4 linked regions of the Homo sapiens genome follow. The protein of the gene in region 1 interacts with the protein of each later gene in a pairwise test. Each region holds a gene or a part of one and is shown on either strand. Other genes may lie near its edges.

Region 1 (5,180 bases):
GCACTGGATTAGAAAGCATAACCTATAGGAAAACACAGACAACATATAATTTCAGAAGTAAACTTTTTTTAGAGCAAAACGACAAACCAATATATACAACTTTCAATAAGCATGTATTAAATGCTTACTATGTATGGATCTGGAAATAGATTAAAAAATAACATGAGACATAGTCTGTACTCTCAAGAAACCTAACCTTAGGCTCATGAATGTACGGTATAAAACTGTGATAGATCAAAAAGCAAGTTACAAGTTCCTTTCTGTAACTTGTTCCTTCCTAGCATATACATTTACATTGAATTTAAATTAAGATTATAAAAATTTTAGTTGATGGTGGTTAGTGTATTTAAAATTCAAAATATTTTAACCAACATTTCAAGTACACTTCCCTTGAATAACAGTGTGATAATTGAAAATGTATCTAATTTGTTATCAAGAAAGAAGTAGTTAGTCATTATGGTCTCAACTTGTATTGCCCATCACTGTAGGCACAGTCACAGGTGGTTATTTACATTTAAAATAATTAAAATTAAATAAAATTAAAAATTCAGCTCCCTAGTCACAGTGGTAACATTTCAAGTGCTCAGTAGCCACATATGACTAGTAGGTACTGTATTGAACGGTGAGATATATTGGACATTTCCATCAATGCAGAAAGTGCTACTGCGCAGCACTGACCTTCAAAGGAATACTGAATAGCTATTAAAATATTGATTATAACCATATGGAAGTTACTTGAGAGACAATGTTAAGTGAAAAAGAAACAGGCTGTATAGTTTACATACTCACGTGCCACATAACAATGTTTCACTCAACAACAGACGGCATATATCATGGTGGTCCCATAAGATAATAATACCAAATTTTTACTGTACTTTTTCTATATTTAGATACACAAATATTTACCATTGTGTTACAATGGCCTATAGTGTTTAGTACAGTAACATGTTGTATAGGTTTGTAGCCTAGGAGCAACAGGCTATAACATAGCCTTCGTATGTATTAAGCTATACCATCTTGGTTTGTGTAAGTACGCTCCATGATTTTCAAACAACGATGAAATGTGTAACAACTCATTTCTCAGAATGTATCCTTGTTGCTAAGCACATGGCAATATACATACCATAATAGCAATAATGTAAAAATTCAGGTTCATTCATTCATTCATTTTATTTAATATCTACCAAATGTCAGCATTGTCTTTGGTATGCTCCAGGAAATCAAGGATGAATTAGACCTGTTTCCTGATTTTGGGGAGCTTGCAGTCCAATAGGGGAAGACAGATAAGTAAGCAGTGTGTGCTTTATAGTATTAGTGTTCTAACAGAAATCTGCTCAGGGTACTGTTGGGTGTGTAGCAAAGGAAGCTCCCCCAAAACCAAAGCTATTAATTCTCCCTAGGAAAATAAATCAGAAAAGGTATCCTAGAGGACGATTCATTTGTTCCAACTCTTACAACAACATGAACAACTGCTTGCTGGACAGACTGAGGAAGAGAAGAGGAGAAAATGAGTTGCCAGGCAGAGGGGAACTGGAGACTGACCATTTCTAAGGTAACTTTAGAACTCTATGAATGTTTTTTTTATCTGAATTGACCCAAGCAATGTGAGTGCAGAAAAGCATGAAGATATAAGTATGAGCAGGATTGCCTGGTGTGTTAGGGAGAGTCTAGGTGTGAGGATTAGATATGCAACAGAACTAGAGCTTACACCTGTGGAGAAGGTGGGATCCACTGAAAGATTTTAAACTGAAAAACAGGAGAAAAGAGCAGAAAGCTCTTTCCTAGTAACAGTAAAGTTAAGGGTTTTCTTTATAATTGTCAGTGATTTTCTTTTCCTTCCCATTATCTTAAAAATCTTTTGTAATGTGGGCATATTTGTTTTATTAATGTTTTCGAAAAATAAAAAGACAAAATTGTGTTATCTACTGGCTTTCCATGATATATTTGGCAACACTTTGGTGTCACTTTGCATTACTCTTTAATAGTAAGAACAATCATAATGTTAACTAACTAGAGGTTCAGCATCCTAAATCTGAAAATCTGAAATCCTAAATACCCCAGAATTCAAAACTTTTTGAGGACCGACATGATGTGCAAAGGAAATGCTCACTGGAGTATTTCAGATTTCAAATTTTCAAATTTGGGATGCTCAAATGGTAAGTATATGTAATGCAAATATTCAAAAATTGGAAAAATTTCCAATTCCTAAGCATTTCAGATAAGAAATACTCGACCTGTATTAACTATTGAGTTATTTTCTTGGACCAGGCACAGTTCCGAATTCTTTACACACATTAATTAATTTCCTCCTCACAGGTTACATGAGGTAACAACAGCCCCATTTTACTGATGAAGAAATTGAGACATTGAGAAGTGGAAAAATTTGTCCAATGATAGATACAAAGGTATCAAGTGGCAGAACCAGGATGTGAAGCCAAGCAAGCTAACTCAGAGCCCCACATTTTCCTTTTATCAAATTATTCTGCAATTCAAAATTTTCACCAGTTCATTCTGGTTTGCCCTTACTCATTACATTTTGGGATCATTTTGCTATTCTTAGGGCAGACTCTAGTTTAGGTGGATGAGATCAGAATATGTCTCAGTTTAAAGGAATCCAAAGGATTAACCCCAGATTTCTGCATATCACACTCACTCACTCCCTTAAATTTTTTGCTCAAATGTCTCCTTCCTAGAACACAACCTCACACAAGTAGATCCTCAATACATATTTGTAGAATGAATGAATGAACTGAACATTGAATCTTTCCTAAAGATTATATTTTACTTAGTATGCTAAGATGACTAGCCAGGAAAGTATTATTTTATTTATTTTCAAATACAAGAAATAGAAGAAATGCAATTTATATTATAATTCTATATTTAAAAACTCAATTATGCCAGAGTATTTTATATTCCAAGTATTCTAGATAATCAAAATGTAATTATTTATCTTCAGATATTATTGGTGATAAGTAGGTCATGGATAGATTATTGCTAAGCTAGCTCTAAGAGGTCAAAGCAAGTTCACTGAAATAATTCATTTTAGCATTAGATGAGAAAGGAGGCATTTTTAAGGACCAGAAATAACACAACACTGGGTGGATGTGGTGGCTCTTGCCTGTAATTCCAGCATTTTGGGAGGCTGAGGTGGGAGGATTGCTTGAGCCCAGGAGTTTGAGGCCAACCTGAGCAACATAGTGAGACCCCGTCTCTACAGAAAATTTAAAAAATTAGCCATCCATGGTAGGGCATGCCGGTGGTCCCAGCTACTTGAGGGGCTGAGGTGGGAGGATCACTTGAGCCCAGGAGGTTGAGGCTGCAGTGAGCCAGGATTGTGCCGTTGCACTCTAGCCTGGGTGACAGAGCAAGATCCTGTCTCAAAAAGAAAAAAAGAAAAGAAAAGAAATAGCACAACACTGAGGTATGCTTCTAAGGACCATGGGTCCAGTGGGTAAAGGTGGCATCTGAGAAACAGGCATCTGAGGAGAGGAGAAAATCCTTGGTATAAATTGTTCACTGGGTTTGATGTGAACACTATTGGGACAGAAAGTAGCTAACTAGCACTGTCAGAAACAAAAAACAAAAGTGAACATTTTAAGTTGTAGTCATTCGATCCACCTCTCTCAGGAAGGCAAGGTCCATAAATGAAGAAAGATCTAAAAGGCTTGCTCAACATCAGGAAGTGAAGTTAGGAACCAAAAGAAAACCTAAGGTTATATTTTCAGAATTGAAACCATCTAAATAATTATTTTATTCTTTTATAAGATATGCATTCTTTGGTCTTGAGGGGCCTTAACTATCAATTTCACTTTAAATAATAGTTTTTATAATTTAAGTAAGTTCCACTTTGTAGCCTTCATATAGAAGTATGGATTTAAATAAACTTCTCAAATTCTTTAAACACTTAAATATGCATTGTATATTTTAATCCTTGTAGTTTGAATAATTAGGGTAATTAAAAGTATTAAAGAGAGGATTATATGAAATCCATTCTTACCTGTAGGGCAAGTAAGATGCTGCTCAATGTATAGTTTGTATTCCACTTCTCAGGGTTGTCCAAAAAGTCTATACAGGGCTGACCAGTGTGTGGGTCTACTGTATTAAAATAATACATTAATATTTGCATTTATAATAAATTATTATTTAAAACTTACAAACATCAAAATGATAAGCCAGAAAAATTATCTGCATTTACTCTTCCTTTTTCCTAGTTCTTCTCTCTGTACTGAGAAGCACTATACCCATCCCTGGTTCCCACCCATTACCATGTTGTTTTAGCTGAATACATAGGTGCCCCTACAGTTTTTCCTATCCTCTCCTTTAGCAAGATGTGGCCTTGTGACTAAGTTTTTGTTGTGGGACATAAGGATAAGTGTGCAATTTCTGAGTCTTTTTTTAAAGGAAGCTGGCTTTCCTTCTTTTCTTCCCCCTTCCCCCAGACTGGAAATGGTGACAAACAGTAAATGCCTTAGTCCCAGAAATGGAATCTTCACATTGAGGATGGGCACAACCTCCCTCCAGCGTTGTCCTGTTATGTTAAGTTGGAAAGATGTACAGGAGCTTGGCATATGCCCTAACACAGTTAAGTAATTTAGTGTTTGAAAAAATAATAGAGTTAAATAAGAAAAATAAAACTGTAGAATGACTAGAAGAAACTTAAAATGACTATTTGATTTTCTTTTGGGAAAGGATCATCTAAGATGAAAGACAACTGCAAAAGCCTCAAAGGACAAGATTAATAGATCTTAAATATAAATTTATTTTAAATCATAAAAATCTCTAAATCCCAGATGTGAAAAAACAGCATAAACAAAGTTGAAAATTAATGACAAATTAGAGGAAATATTTGCAACATCTAGGACAATGTGATAGCACTGTCAATTGTATCATACGAGTCACAAAATAAGAATCAACAAAGGTGGGAAATGTTTACTTCTCAAGTATTCAAAGAAGTGCTTATTAAAATAATAGCAAGACTCTTACCAAATTGGCAAAAAAATTTTCTTCAAAGTTTCAATGGCCAGAATTGGAAGGTGCTAAAATAAGAACTTTATATGTACTTTTTGGTAGGAGTACAAATACCACCGAAAGGCAATTTGGCTTTTTATATAAAGACTTAAAACTGTACATAGCCATCTTTTGCGGGGCGGGCGGGGGCGGGGGTTGAAAGCTAGTAAATA
Region 2 (4,573 bases), on another chromosome or scaffold:
AAAGTACAGGGCCCAGTAAAACAAACAGTTGCAAACAAACTGAGGGATGAGGGGCCAGAACATGGCCACAAAAAGCCCCTGCGTTGATACTTTCCAGAAATGGCTCCACATCCTCTGAGGCACGGTCCTGAAACAAGAAGAGAAGAGGCTGAATCGGAGGCGCTTCTCATGACCACACCCAGGAGTCCGGGCCCTGGGCCTTTTCTGGGTGCTGGGAAGAGCATGGCTGCCCGTGCTGAATGTCCTTGTCTTCTGTCCCCGGTGCCTGAGACCTCTGCCTACTCAACCCATCTTTTAACTCTCAAGGACATGACCTACAGGGAGCTTCTTTGCCCCCACACTGGGCAAGGCCTCCCTGTGACAGCCTCAACTTCACCTGCTTCATCACTTTGTTACATTTACATATTTTTTTTTCCTTTTGAGACAGGGTCTCATTCCTTTGTCCAGCCTGGGAGTGCAGTGGTGCAAATGTGGCTCAACTGCAGCCTTGACCTCCAGGTCTCAAGTGATCCTCCTGAGTAGCTGGGACCACAGGCACACATCACCACATCTGGCTAATTATTATTATTATTATTATTATTATTTTAAGTAGGGACAAGGTCTCGCTATGTTACCCAGGCTGGTCTCAAACTCCTCGGCTCAGGTGATCCTCCACCTCAACCTCCCGAGTAGCTGGGACTACAGGTGTGCACCACCACGCCCAGTTAATTTTTTGTATTTTTAGAGACAGGTTTTGCCACGTTGCCCAGGCTGCACTTGAACTCCTGGTCTCAAGCAATCCTCTCACCTCCCAAAGTGCTGGGATTACAGGCATGAGCCAAGGTGCCTGACCATCTATTTTTTAACGTACATATTTTCTTTGCTAGGCTGTAGGGCCTCACACTATAGACTGTCTTCTTTACCAAAAGATCTGCCATGCCCAGGAGAGAACCAGGAGTACAGTAGGGGCATAAATATGCATATTGTATATAAATAAGTGAGTTTGCTAAATGGAAAGAAATGAGGGAGATTCTTTTTTTATTTTTACCTAGTGAGTCACCATTGGAAAGGTGAGGGAGATTGTTAGGTTCTCAGAACCATTCATAAGGCTGCGAGTCAGAATGTCAAGGTAAAAGGCTGCAAGGGTGGCAGTGTTACTTCTGCCTGTCCCTTTCTTCTGGAAATAGCTTCTAAGTTTTTGGGGGTTTTTTGAGATGGACTCTCGTTTTGTCGCCCAGGGTGGAGTGCAATGGTGCAATCTTAGCTCACTGCAACCTCCACCTCTCTGAGTTCAAGCGATCCTCCTGCCTCAGCCTCCCGAGTAGCTGGGATTACAGGCACCCACCGCCACGCCTGGCTAATTTTTGTATTTTTGGTAGAGATGAGGTTTCACTATGTTGGCCAGGCTGGTCTCGAACTCCTGACCTCAGGTGATCCACCTGCCTTGGCCTCCCAAAGTTCTAGGATTACAGGCATGAACCACTGCACCTGGCAACAGCCTCTAAGTTTTGGGGATTCTCTCTCCTTTGTTCTTTTCCATGTGGTCTGGGTAGGGCTGAAACCAGCCTCTGGTTGTGGGGTGAACTCATGCCTCAAGCCTGGGTCCATCAGAACAAAGGCATGTGAGCCCTGAGACCTTTTCCAGTGCCACAGGGAAGGAAGTGCTTTCTTTCTGGAGGTTTGTTAAGCTGCACAGATCAAAGTCTGGAGTGGAGAAGACAAGGGCCCCCACATGAAGAGAGATGCCTGAGGCAGAAAACACAAGAAAGAACAGTGCTGTGAGGGACAGAGAAAGAGTCAGTACTGGTGACAGCGTTTGGGTCTCAGGGTCCAGTCATGCTTGAAGCCTAAGTTATTATTATCCTAGTTGGTTACAGATCAGGATTAGAACTCATGCCTACAGAATTTCCCATGAGATCTCTTTATGCTCTACCTTACTGCATTTTCTATAAAGCACCCTGTGGAGGCCAAAGCAACTCTATATTGGATGCTAATCTGCCATATTGACTTCTCACTAACTCCGGTTTGGGGGAAGCCTCTAAGATCTCTGGTTTTATCTAATGTTTCTTGTGTAAGAGCACGTACATCACGTAAATCCTGCCCTTTGGTGAAACAGCCTTGATGTTCTCTTACTTACCATAGATCCCGACCCTAAGCAATTGTTCTGCACATCCCTTCTGAAGCATGTATGCCCCTTCCCTATGTATACAAGCCCTGAGTCTGGGGATCCACCATCTTGTCTCGCTACCATCCAAGACACAGACAGGGCTTCTGTTGGCAAGGCCTTATTAAGTGTTTCTTTCTGAGAAACTGAATTTGCCAGCTTCTTCCTTCAGCCCCTCAGCTTCCTCTGATTTAGGGGATAGGTTTGCACAGGCCTGCCTACCTTAAAACAGACCCTTTTCTATTCAGTTGCTTATTCCTTGATTATTACAATCCTTTGCCCCCCTCCCCCTGAAATTAAATGGTATATTATTGCATAGAGATAAGACATATAGGAAAATACTTTTAACAATGAGCACCACAACCCCCACCCCCAAAACACAGGTAATTGTCCTATTCACTGCTTAAGCTAGGTTTCTCAAAGCAGAGTCTGAAGGGTCTGGGTGGATGGAGGATTTATTTCAAGTGTGAGAAATAAAAGAGGATCTTTCTCTCACTTGGTATTTCTTTCCCATCCCCTGTTGTGACAACCATTAAAACATACTTACTTCAGTTCACTTCTCGACCAGATTCTCCAAAAGGAGAATAATTCCAGAACTGAGAGTAACATAGCATTGATGATGAGAAACCGTGATGTCCAGTAATGGACCTCCAACCAGTCCCAAGCAAACTCAGCAATCAGCTGGTATGGAAGGAAGGAGTATTTGACCAGGAACTCTCTCCACTGCTTCCACGTAGGCTCCTTAAGATCCTTAAAAAATAACACACAGACGCAAAAAGTCATGAGGACTGACTTTTACACAAAATATTGTGATGATCAGGCTAGGCACGGTGGCTCACACCTGTAATCCCACCACTTTGGGAGGCCTAGGTGGGCGGATCACCTGAGGTAAGGAGTTCAAGACCAGGCTGGCCAACATGGTGAAACCCCATCTCTACTAAAAATTCAAAAATTGGCCAGACGTGGTGGTGTGTGCCTGTAATCCCAACTACTCTAGAGGCTGAGGCAAGAGAATCACTTGAACCCGGGATGTGCAGGTTGCAGTGAGTTGAGATCGCACCACTGCACTTCACCCTGGGTGATAGAGGGAGACTGTGTCTCAAAAAAAATTGTGATGATCACAGTGAGTTCTACATTGATTACCACACACACACACACATCCAACAATCTAAAATGAAATTTCCATCCATCAACTCATCTTGTAATTGTTTTTTTTTTTTTTTTTTTTGAGACGGAGTCTTGATCTGTTACCCAGGCTGGAATGCAGTGGTGCCATCTCGGCTCACTGCAGCCTCCACCTCCTGGGTTCAAGTGATTCTCCTGTCTCAGCCTCCTGAGTATGTTCTCGTACTTACCATAAATCCCGACCCTAAGCAATTGTTCTGCACATCCCTTCTGAAGCATGTATGCCCCTTCCCTATGTATACAAGCCCTGAGTCTGGGGATCCACCATCTTGTCTCGCTACCATCCAAGACACAGACAGTGCTTCTGGGATTAAAGGTGTATACCACCACGCCCGGCTAATTTTTGTATTTTTAGTAGAGACGAGGTTTTGCCATGTTGGCCAGGCTGGTCTTGAAACTCCTGACCTCAGGTGATTTGCCCGCCTCTGCCTCCCAAAGTGCTTGGATTATAGGAGTGAACCACCGCACCCGGCCGTAATTAATCTCAAATTAAGTAAATGTTAGCAAAAAGGTTGAAATGAAATGCTTGTCATATAATTGTGGAAGCTCAGAAAAAAAAAAGCATGAATTATGAATACATTGAAATAAATTTAAATTAACCAGTTATTCTCCCATCAAGCTACCCAAATGGTAGCTTGAACCATTTCCTAAATTCAACATTGGCTATGGTAGAATAATGGTAGTTTCTGGGAAAATTACAAACACTCCCTCCTCCCTCCAAAAAAAGGTAATTTTTTTTGTGATGGCAGGAGGAGAAGCTTTTCAATTACACATATTAGCAGATAAAAAATTAGCCTGATGATGGCCAGGTACAGTGGCTCACGCCTGTAATCCCAGCACTTTGGGAGGCTGAGGAGGGCGGATTACGAGGTCAGGAGATCAAGACCATCCTGGCTGACACAGTGAAACCCCATCTCTACTAAAAACACAAAAAATTAGCCGGGTGTGGTGGCGGGCGCCTGTAGTCCCAGCTACTCAGGAGGCTGAGGCAGGAGAATGGCATGAACCCGGGAGATGGAGGTTGCAGTGAGCCAAGATTGCGCCACTGCACTCCAGCCTGGGCGACAGGGCGAGACTCTGTCTCAAAAAAAAAAAAATTAGCCTGATGAACAGGCAGAGGCTGTTGGAGCTCGTTAAAATTGAAGGGCTGGGTGCCAGGTGCAGTGGCTCACGCCTCTAATCCCAACACTTTGGGAGGGCAAGGTGGGAGTAAGGGAGGAGACCACCCCTCATGTTGTCTTATGC
Region 3 (5,180 bases), on another chromosome or scaffold:
GTGAGCCACCGCGCCTGGCCTCCAATCTTAATTTTAGCTCACACATAGGTGCTGTTTTTTGTCAACCTTTATATCTAATCATTGTCTTTTGTCTGTAATCATGTTTCTATAATACTGTGGCAGGTCAGGTTTCCATTAGCAACCAGAACAATCAGTTTCCCTTAACCCTTTACTATAATTTTGATGAATGCGTAAGTTAAACATTAAAGAACTGGAAAAGCTGGTGCCTGAGTGAGTACCAGGGCTGAAATGTGAAAACAAACCCTTTAAAGACCCTGCCTGGGTTTTCTCATACCTTAAAGTCTGATCGAATAATAAAAGCATTCTTAGACATACAACTTGTACCAGGGCCCATTTAAGATTAAGAAACTTTCCAAGACTCTAGAGAAAGCTTTCTAGACCCCAGACCCTAGTTAAAGATAGATATAGATTGAAACACTCCTGCATGTAGGTGCACTCCCACGTGAAGGCATAGAGCTTAAAATGTATATAAGCACCAGAAAAAAAAAACTTTGTAACTCTGAGTTGGTCTGATAGTTACTCTGACCTTCTCCCTGTAACCAGTTGCAAAAATAAACTCCCTTCTTTTCCAAGTCTGTCTGCATCTCATTGGACTGTGAAAAAAAGCAGCTAGACTTCATTCTGTACAGGTACAATACTACATTCCACAAAGAAGAAAAAACGGCACCAGTAACTAAGAATATCTAAAACATAAGCTGTTCTCCAGCCATATTGTTTCCTTTCTTATGCCGTATTGTCAAACTGGTATCAATATTCACTCAGTCCCTGTCCCAGACACTAAAACATTTTATCAAGCCAGTCCATCCTTAACTTCTGTTAGTCATCTGCATTCCCCCATCATCACCACTGTGGGTTAATTTGTTTTGAGCAAGATGTACCAATATATTTGGCTTTAACTCTTTCATGACACCAGCTGGTGTACAACCAAATAAATGGTTTTGCTCTCTGTATTAGCATAGTTTTGTTGTTCAACAACTAAAATTGCCTTAACTGGGAAGAAAGTAAGGGTTGTGGCCAGAGAGGTATTACTTTAGTCACAGATGGCTCTGGAAGCTCAAACCTCTGTCACAATTCTGGCCTCTCTGTGCCTATTAATTCTCATTTCTTCCCTATATTTTGACTGTATTCTCAGATTTTAGTTGATAGCAACTTGAATCTCTTTATTTGAATTATCTTCACTGATATTATTTTCTGCTAAAAAGGAGAACTTCCCTTCACTGCAATGACAGTACAATTTTGTCACCCACAAGCATTCAGGATTGGGTCAGATGTCCAACTTAAAATAATCACTGTGTGGCTGGTAGGGATGTAAGGATTGGATACGCTGATTTACATATAATTAACTCATTCATTCTTGATAGTGCTGATTTTCTCAGGTCTAAACAAGTACAAGGATGGAAATAGACATGCTAGTCTTTCTTGCAAGAGTAATTCCAGGTGTTATTACCAGAAAAATGGGGAATGGATATTGACGAAACAAAAATAATGAGTACCATGTAGCCCAAACCCTAGCATTATGCAACAGACCCTTATAAGAAACCTGTAGGACAAATATTCTATGATTCCACTTACATGAGGTACTTAGAATAGGCAAAGTCATAGAGACAGAAAGTAGAATAGTGGTTATCAAAGTAGAGCAGTGGTGACCAAAGGGAATGGGGAGCTGTTTTTTAATGGGTACAGTTTCAGTTTGGGATGGTGAAAAAGTCCAGAGAGGGATCCCACTTAATGGTTGCACAGCAATCTGAATGTACTAAATGCCATGGAATTGAATGTGCCCCCTGAATCTAAAATTTTAAGAAACCTGGAAAAAAAATTTTAAATAATAGTAACTGCCATCTTCTTTCCCTCATTTAGCTACCTACCATTCCATCCTTTCAAAAATAAAAATGGCCAAATATAATAAAACTATTACAGAAAGCATTAAAAATCAAAGTATCTCCTTTATAAGGGAAACAACCTAAAATCTCATCTAATTTTTGCATCAGTTTTCAAGTTGAGCGTCTTTCTGTCTAGATCGTTCTTTGGCAGTAAGTGTTGAATGCAGCTCTTACGAAATGAGTATCAGTCCCTCTAGCAAACAAACAATGGATATATGATAACACCATCCATCCCGATCGCCATCATGAGAATCCATATAGAAAGAAAGCTGTTACAGGGACTCTCAGGAGATGGGATTGTGGAGGAGACATACCACAAATACAACAGCACATATCTTTTTTTTTTAGACTGAGTCTCGCTCTGTCGCCCAGGCTGGAGTGCAGTGGCGCCATCTTGGCTCACTGCAAGCTCCGCCTCCTGGGTTCACACCATTCTCCTGCCTCAGCCTCCTGAGTAGCTGGGACTACAGGCAGCCGCCATCACCAGCTAATTTTTTGTATATTATAAAATGCCCGGCTAATTTTTTGTATTTTTAGTAGAGACGGGGTTTCACTGTGTTAGCCAGGATGATCTCGATCTCCTGACCTCGTGATCCACCCACCTCGGCCTCCCAAAGTGCTGGGATTACAGGCGTGAGCCACCGCGCCCCGCCAACAGATTATATCTTAACATATTGGAGAGGAATAGCCAAAGTCCCTACTCAGATAAAAGAATAAGTTCCTAAGTTTTCCATTTGCCATTCTTTGAAGCTAACATCTAGAAGTGAAATGTTAATCCCACAGCATTTATAATTTTTGATCTACCAATATTTTTTTAAATTCCAAGTGACCAAATAGCAACTAAGACTGACTGAAATAGGACAAATGCCTGGACAAATGACATAAACACAGTGTTCTTTTGTGAAGGTGGCGATTCAAAGGGTTGTGAAGAGCTTAAGGAAGAACCATAAAAAAGGGCCTACGGAACCTTTTTGTTTTTGTTTTTACTGAGATGTAGTTCAAATACCATAAGATTTGCCCTTTACAGTGCACAATTTAACAGGCTTTAAAATATTCACGATGTAGTGCAACCGTCATTGCACAGTAAATCCAGATCATTTTCATCACTACAAATAGAAATTGTACACTAATTAGCAATTACTTCCTATTCTTCCCCAGAGCTCTGGCAACCACTAATCTAGTTTCTATATTACGGATTTGCTACTTACAGACTTTCATATAAATGGAATCATACAAAAAAGAACTTGTGTTTGCCTTCTTTCAATTATAATGTTTTCAAGGTGCATCCATGTCATAGCATGTATTATTAATTCATTATTTTTCACAGCTAAACAATATTACATTGTTTGGATATAACACATTTTGCTTATCCAATCATCAGTTTAAGGAGATACGAGTTGTTTTATTTATGAACAATACTGCTGTGAACTTTCATATATAAGTTTATGCACAAATATATGTATTCAGTTCTTCTAGGTATATAGGTAGGAATGGAATGGCTAGGCCACATGAGAACTCTCTTTACATTTCTGAGCAACTGCCAAGCAGTTTTTCCTAAGTAGCTTTACTATTTTACATCTCTACTAGCAATTCAAGAAGGTTTCAATTTCTTCACATCTTCCCAAACACTTGGTATTGTCCATCTTTTTTTATTATAGCCATACTAATGAGTGTAAAATACGTTTAGGAACCTCTGTTCCAGAGTAATCTTAAATTTAAACAAAAAAAGAAGACAAAAGGAAAAAGGAATTTAAAAAAAGCTGGGATATAAGCACCAGAGACAAAGCAAACAATTCAACAAATGAAAATCAGTTACTCTCCTGCTTCGTTCCAAATCTTAAAAAGGAAATATTTGGAAATTCAGCAAAGAAAGGAGAGCACTGTCTGTCTATATATTTGTCCATCTTTCTCCCCAAAAGGCTCAATATTCTATCACTTTATGTTTAAAAAAAAGTAACAGGGGGCTGGGTGCGGTGGGTCAGGCCTGTAATCCCAGCATTTTGGAAGGCCGAGGCAGGCGGACCACGAGGTCAGGAGATTAATACCATACTGGCTAGCACGGTGAAACCCCATGTTTACTAAAAATACAAAAAAAATTAGCCAGACGTGGTGGTGGGTGCCTGTAGTCCCAGCTACTCGGGATGCTGGGCAGGAGAATGGCGTGAACCTGGGAGGCGGAGCTTGCAGTGAGCCGAGATCGCACCACTGCACTCCAGCCTGGGAGACAGAGCGAGACTCCGTCTCAAAAAAAAAAAAAAAAAAATTAACAGGGAACATTTGCATAACAAATAAGCATATTTTAAACTTAAATAGAACACATTTCTTAAATGTGTATGCTCTTAAACCTGAAAATGCATGTGTTTACCTGTGACTAACCAGAGTAAAGAGAAGTCTGATGAATGCTTGACACTAGATCACATATAATAGGGGCCTAGAGACTATAACTAGATATAATGGATCTTTTCTGCAAGGTAAAATGTATTCCCTTACTTCATAAATTAATAAAAATGTCATTCATGTCCATGACATCTAGAATGGACGACAAGGCGGCACTGCAAGGCCAAAGAAACCCCTTAGTGTCACCACCAGGATGAGAACGCAAGGACACAGGAGGGAACTGTGTTCCCAGAATCTCAGATTGAGCGAACCTTCTTACCTGCAGCAGCTCCATTGTTGACCACTGACTCCGACACTCCACATCTGAGATGAGCTCTCTCACCAACTGCTTCTGCTGAACTAGCTCATCCTCAGCCTCTGCAAACTTATCCAGCGTCTTCTTTTCTTCTTCTTCCAATCTTTGCAGCTCTCTCTGCTCCTCATTATTTAGGATGCTTCTAAGCTGATCAAATTCTGTTTGTATCCTTTGTCTCTCAGTTTGTACCTGATACTGCAAGGATGGACAAGAGAGAGTTGTAGTAAGTTTGTCAGGCTAAGGCCTATTGTGCAAGGGATTAGGAGCCAGTAGGGAAATATATATATATATATATGTGTGTGTGTGTGTGTGTGTGTGTGTGTGTGTGTGTGTATTTATATTATCTGTATATATATATTTGTATTATCTATATATCGATTTTTTTTTTCAGGGAGTTCAAATCAGCAAGGGAGTAGAAGCAATAGAGGTACTTGGAGGGAAGCTATTTTTTCCTACTATTTTCCTTTCAGTACCTACCAAAACAATGACCTCAAACTGTCTTATCTAGGCCAACCCTGAGACAAAATATAAAACATAAGGCTTAGCTTCTAGATAGCTTTCCTGGATATTCATGACTGCCTGCCTTA
Region 4 (5,180 bases), on another chromosome or scaffold:
GGCTGCTGCACCACTACCCATAGTCCCCTGACTTCTTCCACACTCCAGCAGGGGCTTCCAAGCCCTTGCTCCAAACTACCCAAGATGTTGCTACCTGTCTCACAAACCTGGCTTTGAAAGCTGGAAATAAATGAAACTGCCTTTGTTGCCTTCATCACAGGGAAGACACTACTTAAAACTGGGAGCAGTTACCATGACGATGAACATGCTTGCTCTAAGCACAAAAGCTCCATGTTCCTGAAGCAGTGAGGTTCCAAGGACATCATGACACCCTGGGGCCAGAGCCAAATGAACTCTGATCTGACAGATATCCAGCAAATTAACCCTCAGAGTCCAGGGATCATTTGTGAACCCAAATCCAACTTCCTCAAGAGTTCTCTGCCAACGCAGCCTGCTTGCACACAAAAAAAGCTAAATTTTAGATTAGGAGGGGAAGCAGTTAGACGTATAGGAGGGAAACTACCCACTTTCCCCTAATATATCCATTCCCACCTGAGCTGCAACTCTTGATTCCAAGAGCTCTGGTCTGGGGAAGGCCCAGGCATCTGACTTTATACCAAGCTCCCTAGGCAATTTTTTTTCTTTTAACTTTTTTTATTTAATAGAGATGGGGTCCCATGTTGCTCAGGCTGGTCTTGAACTCCTGGGCTCAAGTGATCTGCCCACCTTGGTCACCCAAAGTGCTGGGATTACAGGTGTGAGCCATCACGCCCAGCCTCCCCAGGCAATTTTGAGGCACAGGCAGGCTAGGGAACACTGAATCCAAAAATCTCCCGTGGCTGGGGAGTAGAAGAGTTTTCTAATCTGTCACTAACTGTCCAAGCAGCAAAGTAGGCTGTACAGGATGGCTGTAGGTTCTTTAAAAGATGAGGAGACAAGACCGCAGGAGAGAATTCAGGTTGGAATTGACCTGAAATCCCAAAGGGAGGGTTTACAGTCAAGCAGCTCCCCTCTTCCCTCACAGTGCATTTCTCTGATGACTGTGTCTCATCAGTTGTCCTCTGATTTTTGTGTCCCCACCTTGAAAACTGTACCAAGTCTCACCTCTATAACTTCATCTCCATATTCCAGGAACCCTCCACTTATGTGGAAATAGAAAGTGAACTCCCAGGCCAGGCACAGTGGCTCATGCCTGTAATCTCAGCCCTTTGGGAGGCCAAGGTGGGAGGATTGCTCGAGCCCAAGAGTTCAAGACCAGCCTGGGTAACATAGCAAGGCCCTATCTCTATAAAAATTTTTTTTTATAAATTAGGGCTGGGCACGGTGGCCCACGCCTGCAATCTCAGCACTTTGGGAGGCCGAGGTGGGTGGATCACTTCAGGTCAGGAGTTCGAGACCAGCCTGGCCAACAAGGTGAAACCCCGTCTGTACTAAAAACACAAAACTAGCCGGGTATGGTGGCACGTGCCTGTAGTCCCAGCTACTCGGGAGGCTGAAGCAGGAGAATTGTTTTAACCTAGGAGGCAGAGGTTGCAGTGAGCCAAGATCACGCCACTACACTCCAGCCTGGGTGACAGAGTGAGACTTCATCTCAAAATAAATAAATAAATAAATAAATAAATAAATAAATAAATAAAATAAAAAAATTAACCGAGCATGGTGGTGCACCCCTACAGTCCTAGCTACTAGGTAGGCTGAGGTGGGGAGATCCCTTGAACTCAGGAGTTTGAGGTTATAGTGAGCTATGATTGCACCACTGCACTCCAGTGTGGGCAACAAAGTAAGACCCTGTCTCTAAAAAAAGAAAAGAAAAGAAAAGAAAAGAAAAGAGAAAAGAGAAGAGAAGAGAAGAGAAGAGAAAAAAGAAAAGAAAAGAAAAAAGAAAAGTGAACTCGCACAAGGCTTGGAGTTCAGTAGAATCAGATAAATTCTGGGTACCTTTAAGAATTCTGCATCCAAGACATTCTCCTCCTCCTGGGCAAGATCAAAGAAGAGCTTATTGATAATGGTTCTTTTGCCAACCTGGATGGGAGAACAAGGTAAGAGTATGATTGTGTAGCTGGGTCATGCGCAAGGAGGAGAGTGTTGTACATGGGTCTGACTACCTGCCTGACATGCATGTCAGGCCTGTTCTCAGACCTAATTTTTCAAAGTACATCCTTTAGAGTCAAAAGACCTCTTTACTCCTGCAGGTACCCCAAGTTGGGGCTGCTGGTTTCGTGGTCACTGAAGTCATATTACTACAGACCTACACGGTTAAGTGCTCAAAAGATACCTGAACTCTAGGTGCGGAGTCACTGATGAAAAGACAGGGAAGGAGGCCAGCCAAATCTACCCAAGTGAAAACTGGCCCAGGCAACAAGTCCATCTGCCAGCTACCTGTGGGTGTAAGCAGACCTCCCAAACACTCAAGGGCACAAGTGAGGCTCAACTGGCCTTAAACCAGGAGGGTCCAAAAAAGGTCAGAGATATTGCAGTTTCAGAGCTCTTTTCACATTCCTGCTCTCTGCTAAGGAGATCTCTTCAGTTGAGGTGGTCCCACCCCAATACTCTCACCTGGATTCGGCACTGTGGGCAGGTCCGACTTGGTGCTGTCTCAAACCACTGAATTAGGCTGGAATGAAAAGCAGAACAATAGACTGATGAGCCCTGGTTTGTCTGGGGACATAAGCCAGGCAAACATTCTGACCACGAAAGGGTCTGTTCTGCTCCTCCTTGACCCAATGCCTGCCCAAATAAGAGGACAGTAGCATAGGCAGTTACAGCACCTCCCGCAAGGCCTGATGGGTACTCAGGACTCCAACCAGCTGGCCCTTTTTTTGGCCCTGTTGGCTTGGCCAAAAGCTGTCCTTTAGGCAACATTCTGGGCTTTGACTGGGGTTGGGAGAGATGATAGTCGAAGCTCAGGGGCCCTCAGAGATGAGGACTCTGATAACACCCCCATTTTAAGCTGGAATCCCAAAGACTACACTTTCAAGGTAAGGATCAACCAGAAATAAAAGTAAGTAAGGGTACAAAAATAAAGTTAGATATAAGGAATAAAATCTAGTATTTGATAGCACAACAGAGTGACTACAGTCAACAATAATCTACTGTACATTTTAAAGTAACTAAAAGAATAGGAATGTTTGTAACACAAAAAAATGATAAATGCTTGAGGTGATGGCTACTCTGTTTACCCTGAAGTGATTATTACAGTGTATCCCTGCATCAAAATATCTCATAAACCCAATAAATATGTATACCTACTATGTACTCATAACTTTTTTTTTTTTTTTGAGGTGGAGTCTTGCTCTGTCGCCCAGGCTGGAGTGCAGTGGCACGATCTTGGTTCACTGCAAACTCCGCCTCCTTGGTTCAAACGATTCTCCTACCTCAGCCTCCCAGGTAGCTGGGATTACAGGCATGCGCGACCACGCCCAGCTAATTTTTGTTTTTAGTAGAGACAGGGTTTCACCATGTTGGCCAGGCTGGTCTTGAACTCCTGACCTCAAGTGATCCACCTGCCTCAGCCTCCCAAAGTGCTGGGATTACAGGTATGAGCCACCATACCCAGCCATAAAATTTTTTTAAATTAAATTTTTTGTTTTTTTGTTTTTTACAGAATAGAGGCAGGGTCTCACTGTGCTGCCCAAGCTGGTCTCAACTCCTGAGCTTAAGTGCTCCTCCCACCTCAGCCTCCCAAAGTGCTGGAACTATTGGTATAAGCCACTGTGCCCAATCAAAAAAATTTTTTTAATTAAAAAAAAAAAAGAGTGGCCGGGCGCAGTGGCTCACGCCTGTAATCCCAGCACTTTGGGAGGCCGAGGCGGGCAGATCACAAGGTCAGGAGATTGAGACCATCCTGACTAACATGGTGAAACTCCATCTCTACTAAAAATACAAAACATTAGCCGGACGTGGTGGCAGGCACCTGTAGTCCCAGCTACTCGGGAGGCTGAGGCAGGAGAATGGTGTGAACCTGGGAGGCGGAGATTGCAGTGAGCTGAGATTGTGCCACTACACTCCAGCCTGGGCGACAGAGCGAGACTCCATCTCAAAAAAAAAAGTAAGTAGTGGTAAAAGCAAAACACAGCTGAGCTTTGCATCATCTATGCAGGTGGTCCAGCAAAGCTCAAGCCTTAAACTTTAATTAGTCTCCTACTAGTAGACTCCCCTACTCCTAGGGACCAGGGAGAAACTAAGTCCTCTCTGGAAAATGATACCATCATCCTGGCCTCAAAGATTCCTATAAGTACATTTTCTTTTCTTTTCTTTTTTTTTTTTTTTTTTTTTTTTGAGATGGGGTCTCAATCTGTCACCCAGGCTGGAGCGCAGTGGTGTGATCTTGGCTTACTGCAACCTTCGCCTCCCAGGCTCGAGCAATCCTCCCACCTCAGCCTCCCGAGTAGCTGGGACCACAGGCGTGCACCACCATGCCCAGCTAAAATTCCCATAAGTTTTCAAATACCATGTACAACATATAATCAAGAGTAACCAGGCGCAGTGGAATACTACACAGCAAGAATAAATGAGTCTACAGCTAAGAACAATATTATGAATAAATCACAAAAACATAACACTGAGGAAGAGAAGCCAGATACAAAAAGTTATATTTTGTATGATTCTATTTACACAGTTTAAAAGTAGGCAGGCCAGGCCCAGTGGCTCACGTCTGTAATCCCAGCACTTTGGGAGGTCGAGGCGGGTGGATCATCAGGTCAGAAGTTTGAGACCAGCCTGACCAACATGGTGAAACCCCGTCTCTACTAAAAATAGAAAAATTAGCCGGGTGTGGTGGCGCACGCCTGTAATCCCAGCTACTTGGGAGACTAAGGCAGAAGAATCGTTTGAACCTGGGAGGTGGAGGTTGCAGTGAGCCGAGATCACGCCACTGCACTCCAGCGTGAGGGACATAGTGAGACTCTGTCTCAAAAAAAAAAAAAGTAGGCAAAATTCATCTATGCTCTCAAAGTCAAGACAGTAGCTATCTTAATATGGGGAGGTGGAGGGAGGTGTTGGTAGGGGTTGGAAGAGCATATAAGGAGGTTTCTAGAAGGTTTCTAGAGCTGATAATAGTCTGCATTTTTTTTTTTTTTTTTTTTTTGAGACAGAGTCTTGCTCTGTCAGCCAGGCTGGAGTTCAGTGGCACGATCTCGGCTCACTGCAACCTCCACCTCCCAGGTTCAAGCAATTCTCCTGCCTCAGCCTCCCGAGTAGCTGGGGTTACGGGTGCACGCCACCATGCCCAGCTCATTTTT

The links.
Region 2: the proteins of UBE2U (region 1) and BFAR interact in a two-hybrid assay, tested with the Homo sapiens proteins (one large-scale study listed by BioGRID and IntAct).
Region 3: the proteins of UBE2U (region 1) and TRIM34 interact in a two-hybrid assay, tested with the Homo sapiens proteins (one large-scale study listed by BioGRID and IntAct).
Region 4: the proteins of UBE2U (region 1) and TRAIP interact in a two-hybrid assay, tested with the Homo sapiens proteins (one large-scale study listed by BioGRID and IntAct).

Annotation. Positions count from the first base shown.
Region 1 is NC_000001.11:64,209,657-64,214,836, reverse strand, and holds part of UBE2U (ubiquitin-conjugating enzyme E2 U), read right to left. Parts: intron 4,096-5,180; coding exon 3,998-4,095; intron 23-3,997; coding exon 1-22. UniProt on the Homo sapiens protein: Catalyzes the covalent attachment of ubiquitin to other proteins.
Region 2 is NC_000016.10:14,663,189-14,667,761, reverse strand, and holds part of BFAR (bifunctional apoptosis regulator), read right to left. Parts: intron 2,894-4,573; coding exon 2,691-2,893; intron 128-2,690; coding exon 1-127. UniProt on the Homo sapiens protein: Membrane-bound E3 ubiquitin ligase that plays a role in several processes including apoptosis regulation or reticulum endoplasmic stress. Has anti-apoptotic activity, both for apoptosis triggered via death-receptors and via mitochondrial factors.
Region 3 is NC_000011.10:5,634,239-5,639,418, reverse strand, and holds part of TRIM34 (E3 ubiquitin-protein ligase TRIM34), read right to left. Parts: intron 4,789-5,180; coding exon 4,558-4,788; intron 1-4,557. Other genes in the region: TRIM6-TRIM34 (tripartite motif-containing 6 and tripartite motif-containing 34), read right to left, coding at 4,558-4,788.
Region 4 is NC_000003.12:49,845,647-49,850,826, forward strand, and holds part of TRAIP (E3 ubiquitin-protein ligase TRAIP), read right to left. Parts: intron 2,555-5,180; coding exon 2,497-2,554; intron 1,963-2,496; coding exon 1,879-1,962; intron 1-1,878. UniProt on the Homo sapiens protein: E3 ubiquitin ligase required to protect genome stability in response to replication stress.